Regions from separate parts of the Homo sapiens genome. Here region 2 is linked to region 1. Evidence: fine-mapped expression QTL. Tissue or cell type: whole blood. Region 1 holds a variant in brackets; the other region holds the start of a gene. All regions are shown on one strand. Distances are between the middles of the regions.

Region 1 (5,199 bases):
CTGCAGTGTCCCCCCAGGCTGCCTTAGTCCAGAAGGCCAGCTGCCTGCCACCGGTGCCCGGGACGAGCATATCCCCTGAAGCTGGAGAATGGTGTCCACCTTTGCATGGCAGCTTCTCCCAAGGCATTGGCTAAAATATTGCACTTGTAAATCAGGAAAACTGATGAGGCAAGGGTTTCCTATTACAGGACGACGTGCCAAGCATCCAACTACTATTTAAATAAATAAAACTCAAAGTGGGGGTCTGAGCTGCAAGCTCCAATGGCCCTCTAGGAGGGCCCGAGAGCCCAGGCCTGGACCTCCTGCCCCATCAGCCAGTTCTTTAAGGAACTTGGTCAACGCGAAGCCTCCGCGGTCTCCGCAGCAGGGAGCAGCAGCTCCAGATCTGGCTTGGCCAGGGCCCCTGACCTGCCAGGGTCTTGGGCCCCCTCGTACCGGGGCAGTGGGGACCCCACGGGGCCCATCCTTCTACTCCTCCAGTAGCCTGGGCCTCTCTTGGTCCAGGCCTCGCTTCCGTATGTCTATCCGTCTGTCCAGAGACACAGCCTCTGGGGGCTTGCTTGCCCCCTCCGTCACAGGGGGCAGGGAGGCAGGTGGGCAGGGGACCCAGCCCGCCTGGTGTGAACGCTGAGCTCGACTCCAGTGGCCCCTAAAGCGGGGGACTCATCTTCTTCTGGTTAATAAGGTCCAGGTAGAGGTCAGAACGGAGAAAGCGAGGGTACGAGTCCTTTTCCATGAGCCCGAAGATGCGCTTCTGTGCCAGGTCGAAGCAGCCCCGCGTGACGCTCTGCAGGTTGTCCTTGGTGTGCTCCCGCGTGTAGGAGTCCAGGTTGACCTGGGGAGGCAGAGGGGGACATGGTCAGGGCTGCCTGCTGGGGACTGACCCTAGGGCCCATGTGCCTGGAAGGGACCCATCCAGCCTCTCACCTCCAAGCCCCTTTGCCCCACATCTTAAGGTTCATCTGAAGTAGAGACCCTCAGACCAGAGGATTCAAGTCCTGGCTCAGTCATTTCCTGTAGGGCTGGCAGCATTTATAAGGCTGAAAATACCACCCTGAGGGTTAGGCTTCCTGGGTTCAAATCCTAGCAGTGCCACACCTGGGTGTGTGACTTGAAGCAAATTACTTAAGTGCGGTGAGCTTCAGTTGTCTTATCTACCAGCTAGGAATAATAGTACATTCCTCAAAGCGTGAAAACCAAGCAAGATCATCCATATAATGTGCTTTGCGCATAGTGCCTGGCACACAGTAGGCACTCAATAGATGGGAGCAATTATGATTTGTCTCTGTCACTCAGGCTGGAGTGCAGTGGTGCGATCTCGGCTCACTGCAACCTCCGCCTCCCGGGTTCAAGCGATTATCCTGCCTCAGCCTCCCGAGTAGCTGGGACCACAGGCGCCCATCACCACACCTGGCTAATTTTGTAATTTTAGTAGAGATGGGGTTTCGCCCTGTTGGCCAGGCTGGTCTCGAACTCCTGACCTCAAGTGATCCGCCTGGCTCGGCTTCCCAAAGTGCTGGGATTACAGGCATGAGCCACTGTGCCCAGCCTGTCTCTTCGTTTCACAGGTTGTTGTGTGGATTAAACATGAGAACGCATACATAAAGGGCTCAGCACATGCCTGGCATGCGGCAGTGCCTTGGTGGTGGCCATTTTTATTACTAACTGGGATTCTGTTCTTCCCCTGATCCTAGCTTGCATCTTCCCTGCTGGGTACCTGGGCTCATGGAGTCATTCTGGCCTCTCCCCTTCCTGTGCTGCTGGCTGCCACCTTGCAGCTGAAGGGCCACTGGGCCCTGGGGATTGGAGGAGCGGAGGGTCTGCCCTGAGGTCCTACCTCCTTGCATGCCTGGATCGCGATGTATTCAGCAAAGATCTTCTTGGCCTTGGATGCCATCTTGGACTGTGACTTGACCTTCTTGAAGTCCTCACAAGCCAACCAGAACTCCAGATTCTCCTCACTGAACTCAGTGCGAAGGAAGGCTTGGAACACTGCTAACCCGTCTGTGAGGAGAACGGATCCTGGGGTAAGAGGCAAACTCAGCCTCTCCTGCCCTTAAGATGCCTCAGCTTACCCCTACAGGACTTTAAAGATGGGCGTGCTGGGAGCTGAGTACAATGCCCGTCCCCGACAGCCAGGAGCCCTGGGATGTGGCCCCAGCCCTGCCACTGCCTCTTTCAGGGTCTCAGTGGGGTCTCCCC[C/T]TCTCTATGCCTCAGTGTCTTCATCTGTGAAATGGGGACTATCGATTCTGTCTCCCGGAGCCCTGGGAGGAGCCGATGGGACCCTGCCCATGAGATGGCAGGCACATTTGGCGCCGTGAAAGCCCTCAGTACGTAGAAATGTTTATTCTTATTCTGGGAATATGGATCTGAGCACACAGGTCCCACGGGCCTCCGGCAGGCAGTGCCAGCTCACATGGACGGGGAGGGGCTGGCAGAAGCTGGCTCCAAGGCCAGACCAAGGGCCTCAGCTTGGGCTCAGCCCCTCCGCAACAGCAAGGACACCCTGACGGCCGAGGAGAGGGAAGGCGGCCTCTCTAGCACCAGCTACACAGGGTCTGGATGGGGGCGAAGGGGAGAGGGAGAGAGGGCACAGGGAGTGGGCAGGCAGGCCCAACTTACATTTGTGAACCAGCAGCTTCTCCAAGGACTCGCCCCACTTGAGGGCTTCCTCTGAGGTGGGCCTGAGGGGTGAGGGAGGAAACACAGTGAGGGCACTGAGAGGCTTGGGAACCTTGGGGGAAGCTGGGCCAGGCGGCCTTTGTTTACTGCCCTGGGCCCAGTCTGCAGCTGAGCCCAGCTGGGGCGCCCAGGAAGGAGGCCCACCCTCTTTCCCGGGGCCAGGGTCCCTTCCAGCCCCCATCTCCACCCCACCTAGCCTTCCCCCTAGGGCAGCTGCTCCCTGTGAGGGTAGCTGCTTGCCAGGTACCCAGCTCCCTCTGTGAAAGCCTGTCTCCCCCAGAGCTGGATCAAGCCGGCAAGCCCCTTCCCCTCAACCCTACCACTCAGTCCTACTCCCCGGGGAGCCAGTGAGTTCCCCAAAGGGTCCCAGGGTGCCAGGGAGGACCTACTTGAATGACTTCATCATTTTGTCTGCCTTGCCCGCGGGAGGGGCTCCAGGGGACTCATTCCGCCGTCTGAAGATCCCCAGCTTGTTCTTCATGTCCTTGGCTCTGGGGACAGAAGCAGAAAAGAGGGTTGCTCAGCCTGGCCCACTCGCCCCTGCAAATCCAGAGTCGGGAGAGCTGGGTCGAGGGCACCTACTCCTTCATCGTGTGTCGCCTCTGCAGGTTCCCGTTGCGAGTGAGGTACATGCCTCGGAGCATCTCTGTAGGGCCCCCCACCTTGGGGCCGCAGATTGGTCTGTAGGAGGCACCACTCTGGCTCCTGTCCCCCACCCCGCGTCCTGGGCAGCGGGCAGCAACGGTGCAGGCTGCAGCCACACACGCTCTCTGGAATCCTGGCCTGATGACTGGACTCCCAGGCACAAGCCGGGGCTGGGACTCAGACAGGAGGAGCCAGGAAATGGGAGGGACCAGGAGGGGGAGCGGAAAAAAAAATTCCTTCTGGCCAACCCTGAGAGGGAGCCGTGAAAGGGGCATGTGTCTGCAAGGGACAGCCTCTGGGGCCGCCCCGGCAGGAAGCCAGTCCCAGCTATTTGTGACTGGCCTCCTCGTTACCATGGCAGCAGGGAGACAGTGGTGGGGGGTGGGGGACAAGTCAGCAAATTGCTGAAAGGGAAGGAGGGAGCCAGGGGAGGCACTGCCCACCACCGGGGTGGCAGGACTGGCTATTTTTAGCCAAGAACCATTTTTAGCCTTGCCGGTCCCCAAGGAGGCAGCAGAATTCAGCACTGGGTGAAACTGCTGGCAAGAAAGGAGTTAAATGCCTCTTGCTCATGTTCGCCCCTCTTTTCCCTAGACCCCCTGTACAGGGCACCTCCCAGAGAATGGCTCCTGCCAGCCGGCCTCTCAGCCTCAGTCACCTGCATTGGCGACATCCAGTCATGAATATACAGCAGGACCCCAACATCTTAGTAGTTTTAAGCCTGAATAACTTCAGAAGTACAAGTCCTATAAACTTACAAAAACACCATTTTAAAGTTTAATTATTTAATGTTGTGTGCATGGTTTTGTGATTTTCGAATAATAAATGTTTCACTTTAAGTTTTGGTCTCCATCCTCCCAAAGATGGAAAATGCTGACTCAAACCAAAAATGAAAATGAAAAATTGATTATTCAAAAATCACATAACTAAAGACGTGCAAAAGAAATTTAATAATTAAACTTTCAAGGGGGTTTGGTAAGTTTGAAGCATTTATACTTCTGATGCTATTCAAGCTTAAAATGGCACTAAGACCTAGACACCCTGTCTAATGAAGGAGAGTCCTGCAGGGGAGGCTGATCCCAGGCTCTGGAGCTAGTCTTGGGTTCAAATCCCAGCTCCAGCAGTTACCAGCTGTGTGCCCTTTGACACGTTTCCTGATCTCTCAAGTTTCCTATCAAGGTTTTTTCTCTGTCAAGCTGTTTCCTCAAACAGAAGCCAGCAGGCCAGGTCTCCAGGTCCCAACCCCACCACTTTCTTGCCATGTAACTTAGCCTCTTTGCACAGTAGTTTATTCACGTGTAAAATAAGGGTAAGGTCAATAAGAAAGAACAGAACGGAAAATAAAAGTAGTGGTAAAGATTAAATTAGATTACATATGAAATACACACAGAACAGTGCGGGGCATAATAAACATTAATGGTTATTCTTATTATTACCGTAGATGTTCTAAGACTCTTCGTCTAAGCTTTTAAGAGTATGACCTTCAGAGGCCAGGCATGGTGGCTCATGTCTGTAATCCCAGCACTTTGGGAGGCCGAGGCGGGAAGATCACTTGAGGCCAGGAGTTTGAGAACAGCCTGGCCAACATGGCAAAACCCCCATCTCTACTAAAAGTACAAAAAAAATTTGCTGGGTGTGATGGCACACACCTGTAATCGCAGCTACTTGGGAGGCTGAGGGACAAGAACTGCTTGAACTTGGGAGGCGGAGGTTGCAGCAAGCCAAGATCGCACTCCAGCCTGGGTGACAGAAGGAGACTCTGTCTCCAAAAAAAAAAAGTGTGGGCTTCAGGCAATTCAAAAGGCAGCACCTACATTGAAAGGAGGCTAGACAGGGCTGCTCCAGCACCCGGGATGCCTGCCCTCTGCGCCA
Region 2 (5,122 bases), 130 kb after region 1:
CTGGAGAAAAATATTATGTATACCTACAATGACTTCAAATTACATCATTTTTCACAATAAAGAAAAAAAAATCCCTCTAGAGTAGTTGGGTCCTAGCCTCAGCTTGCCTACTCCCTTCCCCTGAAGTAAGGCCACCTCCTCAGAACGCAGTGTCCTTCAATTAATGTCACTTGAACATACTCCTTTTGGGGGACAAGGGGTTGTGTTCATGTGTACACACAAATACATATATCATGCAGTACTCTCCCCGAAGGGAATTCTCATCAAAACAGTTTTGTCTCTTTATATTTCCATAGATGATTATGCTCCCTTTACATGTCTGTGCTCAGGAAACTACCAGCTAAGCAACATCTTCATCTGGTTCTACCAAGGCAAAGCTCACAGTAGAAGGCCAGGGGCTACCTACTTTGCTAAGGAAAGGCCAGTGAACTGAGAAAAACTTAGCCAAAACCTTCACAGTAAAAGTGGTCCCAATTGCTACCAAAACTGACTCTGAATCCATAGCTTCCAAACCTGGATGACAGTCTGAACGCTCTATGGCTTCTTAAGTGTTCATATTCTCAGGCTCCACCCCAGACCTATTAAACTAGAGTCTCCAGAAGAAGATTCTAGGAATCTGTGTATTTTTAACAGGCTCCCCACATGCTTCTGATATTTGGCTGGGTTTGGAAACCACTGATAGGAATCTTTGCTCATAAGCAGATCAGTGAAGATCACAGTGGATAAAGAAAATCAGCAGCCTGAAAGAGGGGCACCACGACAAATGGCACCCAGGGAAACAGAGCCAGTGCAGGAAACAGGAGAGAATTTCTCAAATGCTCTCATAAGCATCCTTAGAGAGATGTGAGAGGAGCCTGCACGAATAAGAGCAGGTGGCTTCCCACCCCACCCAGGCTCCTGTCTGCCTCCTGCACACTCAGGTCACAGTCACTTGTTCAAGCAGCAGCCTTCCCTGATACCCATCAGACTCAGCCCTGAGGCCATGGCTGGGCAGGAAGATCCACTCCCTGCTGGGCCTGAACCCTCCTCAGCTTCCCAGATCTGGCAGGCAGATTAATCTAATAGAAGAACATGGACCAATGCAAGGAAATATTCACATCAGGCCACTAAGGAAAACATATGGGTTACAAAATTGTCCATACAAACTTGATCTCAATTGTGTTGAAATTTGACCCCTAAATACACACAGGCACACACACACACACACACACACACACACACACACACACACAGAAATAGGTGTGGAAATAAGCCTGGGAGGATATAAATCAGAAAGTTAACAGTGGTCTCCCTGGGAAGTCAGATTACAAGTGATTTTCACTTTCTTCTTTTCACTAAGTTTTCAGCAGTAAACACATGTAACCATGATAATAAGGAGGAAAAAAGCAAACATATTTTTACTTTTTAATCAGGACACAGCTAAGGTAAGAGGGCCTCACAGCTCCCTGACACCCTTTCCTGATCACTCCTACCCCAGCCAATACAGATCATCCTGGAAACCACCCTTGTCTCACAGAGCCCTGCATCCCAATGGGGTTAGCAGGAATTGCCTCCTACGCTGGGGCATTAAGTGAGATAATGCAGGTAAAACACTTGGCATAAGGAATGGCAATGGTAAGTTCTCAACAAATGATGGCTAGTTAATTGCCCTTTATCGTCCACCAACTAGACCAGTGAATTCCTGCTGCCAGACGTCAGGCAATTTCAGAGGCCAAGCCACTGCTCTTCCATCATTCCCTCTACCCCTAAGGAAAAAAAGCAGGTTGTGGAAAACCAAATATGTTGAGCAGGAGTAAGCCTGAAAACAGAAGAGCCAGGAACCCCAGGGAGGGACCAAACTCCTTGGGCACTCTGTCTTTGAAAGCTGGGCAATGTCCAGTAATGTTTCAGTAACAGCCCCAACCTTTAGAAGGAAATTGTATGCAAGTTCAAACAAAAATGCGCTGGACAGGTCATCTCTGGAAAGCTTGAGCTCAGCTACGAACTCTGCCACTGGCTCATGGAAGATCTCTTGGTTTCAAGTCTTCACAGAGGAAAAATAACCCCTCTCCACAGAGAGTTGCAGGACCAGTGAGGAAATGAAGGGTTACCCTCAAGGGTAGGGTTGTTACCTTTACTATGGCTACCAGGAAGGCCAGGTTTGCCCAGACCTTTGGGCAGCTGCCGCCCAGCTGTTATTTGGGGGAACTCAGTCTGCTACTTAGGGGCTTGGGAGTGAAGCCTACTGTTCACTTCTTTCCACCTCAAACCCTGAGGCAGCCCTGGGACCCTCCTAAGGGATTGTTCTTTCTTGGAGGAGAGAATTCTCCCATCTCCACTGTGGCTCAGATACCCAACAAAGTCAAATTGCAGCCTCCCCACAAGGCAGCAGGGCCAAAGGGCCCAGCACCTGTCCGCTCCCTGAGCCAAAGGAAAGTGGGTGAATGAGATCTCCAGTTGCTATAACAAGACCTTGATTTAACCTGAGCTGCTTGCTAATGAGAAACTCCGTGGTGACAACCCAGGTCTCTGAAAGATTAACCAGAGCGTGATTATTCCAGCCAAGTGAGGCAGAACCAACCGCAGTTGGCACTCATGGCCGGGCAGCAGGTGGTGTCCAGCAGCTTGCTTGGACTGAGCCTGTGCCCTGAGCCCCTCCTGGGCAGTCACAGGAGAAAGGGGCCAGAGAAGGTGCCCCTAGATAGAAAGAGCACCTGCTCCCAGCCTCCCCTGTCACCACGAGGGGCTGCGTTTCTGGGCGCTGGGAGCAGGGTGAAGCAGCCCCTGCCGCCAGCCCCAGCGGGCACTTACCAAAGGTGGTGAGGTAGAAGGACAAGTCCGGGTGGGCACGCCGGCTCCCGAGGGAGACGCGGTGCAGGGAGCGCTCCATGGCGTCCCACTGCGACCCGGACAGGAGCGTCTGCAACCCGAGGCGGCTGTGTTGCTCCCCAGTAACCGGAGTCTCCAGGGCGGGAGGAGCGCGAGCGGGAGGTAGGGCTGCCCCAAGCGTTGGAACGGCCAGGGCGCGCCCGGCCCTGATTGGCCCGCGCGGGTTTGAATGGGGAGAGTTCCACCTGCCGGAGCAGAGCTGGGCCGGGGTGGGGGAGGCGGCGCCGCCGACCCGCGCTGAGCAGCGACGGCAGCCACCCAAGGAGCCAGCAGGACGGTGCGGCCACCCCGGGTATCCCGGCCCCAGCACCGCGCTCCCGGTTGGAAATGCCAGTCCCACGAGAAGGCCCAGTCCGGGGTGCCCACTCTGGGCAGGCTTGGCCTCCTCGTCCAGCTCTCCTAGACCAGCAATTAGTCGGGTTTATAACCTGCTTTGAAGCTCAGGCCTATAATCATTAGATCCAAGCAAAGGCAAAGGAGCACCCGATGGCCCAGGGCAGTGAGGTTTGGAAAAGTGTTCTCTGCGCTTGGACAGGTCGCCCCCCACCATGCTGCATCCTCTTCCCAAACCCTGCATCCTGGATCACTCTCTTGAGCCTCCTCTTGAACAAGTGCTGCCTGACACAGGTCCGGATGGGAGCAGCTTGCTCCAACCAACCTGATGGCCCCCCGTCCCACAGCCTGATGCCATCGGACAGCAGGACAGGCCCACAGCCTCTGAGAAAGAGGAACGCACAGGAAACGGAGTGGGGTGGGTGAATCCCCCAGCCTGGTGCGGGGAGGCAGAGCTGGAAGGTCAAACCCTGCTTTGCTGCTTTGTCAGCAAACATTTACAGGACACCTCCTCGTAGCAGTTTCACACCAAGACATCTGCTCTGCAAATCTCTGTTGCCACTGTGGGAAGGAAAGCTGTTAGTCTCGTGTAAATCTAAAAATGGGAAGTGTTGGTATTTGTCCCTGTTCCCCAGACTTCATCGCCAAGTGGATATTTGTGGTTCAGTGATCCACTCAAAAACAAGATGGGGAGATGCAAGACAGAAAGTGGAGAGAAGAGTTATGTGTTGAGTACCAGATGCCAGAGGCTGAGCTGAGCTGGGCAATTTACACACATCATCTCAGTTAATCTTCACGGTAAGTCTAATAAGTATTAGCCCCAATTTACCAGGAAGAAATCTGAACCTCAGGCAGAGAAGACAGGTGACATGCCCAAGGTTTGCAGAGCTAGGAATAGGCAGAGCTGAAATTTGAACCCAGGCCTGTCTGCCCCAAACGCCATTGTCCTATTCTTCCTTGGCCTCCACATCTGCCCCATGGCCAACAGCAGGTGGAAGGAGCAAACGCCACAGGGTCAGGTGGCCACCAGCGAGGAGCAGAAACTGCAGAAGGAGCCCTGAATCAGCAAACTGGTGATAAATCACATAAATGCCGTAGGATTGTTTGAATCCTGGCACTTCGTGAAGTCCTGCCCTGCTCTTTACTGCACCCCCCCACCCCACCCCACTCTCCCCCTCCAACCCCGGTTACACACACACATGGTGAACACTGCCTTTAACAAGAGCAGGTCCACTCTCCTAGCCTCAAGCCAGTGACAGATGGACTTACCTGCACCCTGGACTTTGGCATGCGTGATCCTCTTCCTGGCTGGAGAAGTTTGAGTCCACTCATCTCTTCTGGGCAGAGCGATATCAGGGCTTAGCCACTCCATCCAGCCAGGGAATATGGGCAAGCTCAGGCTCAAGCCACAGGATGTAGAGAGGACACTGAGCACAGAGACGTGGCAGACCTGCAGGAGCAAGATGGGAGCATGAGTTAGCCATGGCCTGAAGATGCTCCATGCAAGGTGTGTTCACTCCCAGTAGGAACTAGAAAGCATGGTGTTCAGGAAACAGCAAAGGAAGGCCCACAGGGAAAAGGGAAGGTGATGTGCCTGAGATGATAGTCACCTCTTCACAACTTCGCCAGGGACCACTGTAGAGCCTCCTCCCAAAGGGGAGACTATCTTGGGCTCCAGAGGCTGTGAGCAACCTGCAGGTACAACACTCAGGACGGTGAGATCCAGAAAGAAAATTGGGCAAAGGTGTGCTGTCTGAATGTGACCTAGGAGAGAAAAGACCGAGGCCCACACTGGGCACTTACACCCGGTAATGGGAACAAAGATTCTACTGCTTTGTAGGTCCCCTCCTGACTCCTGCCCCACTCTGCAGCTAACATATTCAGTTGGAAGATTGCAAGGCCAGCCTGATCCTGAGCTGGC

The links. PIP is the estimated chance that this variant, and not a neighbour inherited with it, causes the effect.
Region 2: RGS3 starts here. The variant in region 1 is fine-mapped to the expression of RGS3 in whole blood (TOPMed, PIP above 0.99).

What each region holds. Positions count from the first base shown.
Region 1 is chr9:113,592,404-113,597,602 of GRCh38, reverse strand. It overlaps RGS3 (regulator of G protein signaling 3), which reads right to left. Exons shown (of 23, transcript NM_001394167.1): 20 at 3,072-3,173; 21 at 2,623-2,684; 22 at 1,838-2,004; 23 at 1-835. The coding sequence ends at 650. Among named protein-coding and RNA genes, the nearest start is that of RGS3, 130 kb to the right of the region's middle. The variant C/T (reference allele first, on the strand shown) is at 2,203.
Region 2 is chr9:113,461,550-113,466,671 of GRCh38, reverse strand. It overlaps RGS3 (regulator of G protein signaling 3), which reads right to left and starts at 2,945. Exons shown (of 23, transcript NM_001394167.1): 1 at 2,791-2,945. The coding sequence starts at 2,869. RefSeq lists enhancers at 2,133-3,087, 3,088-4,042.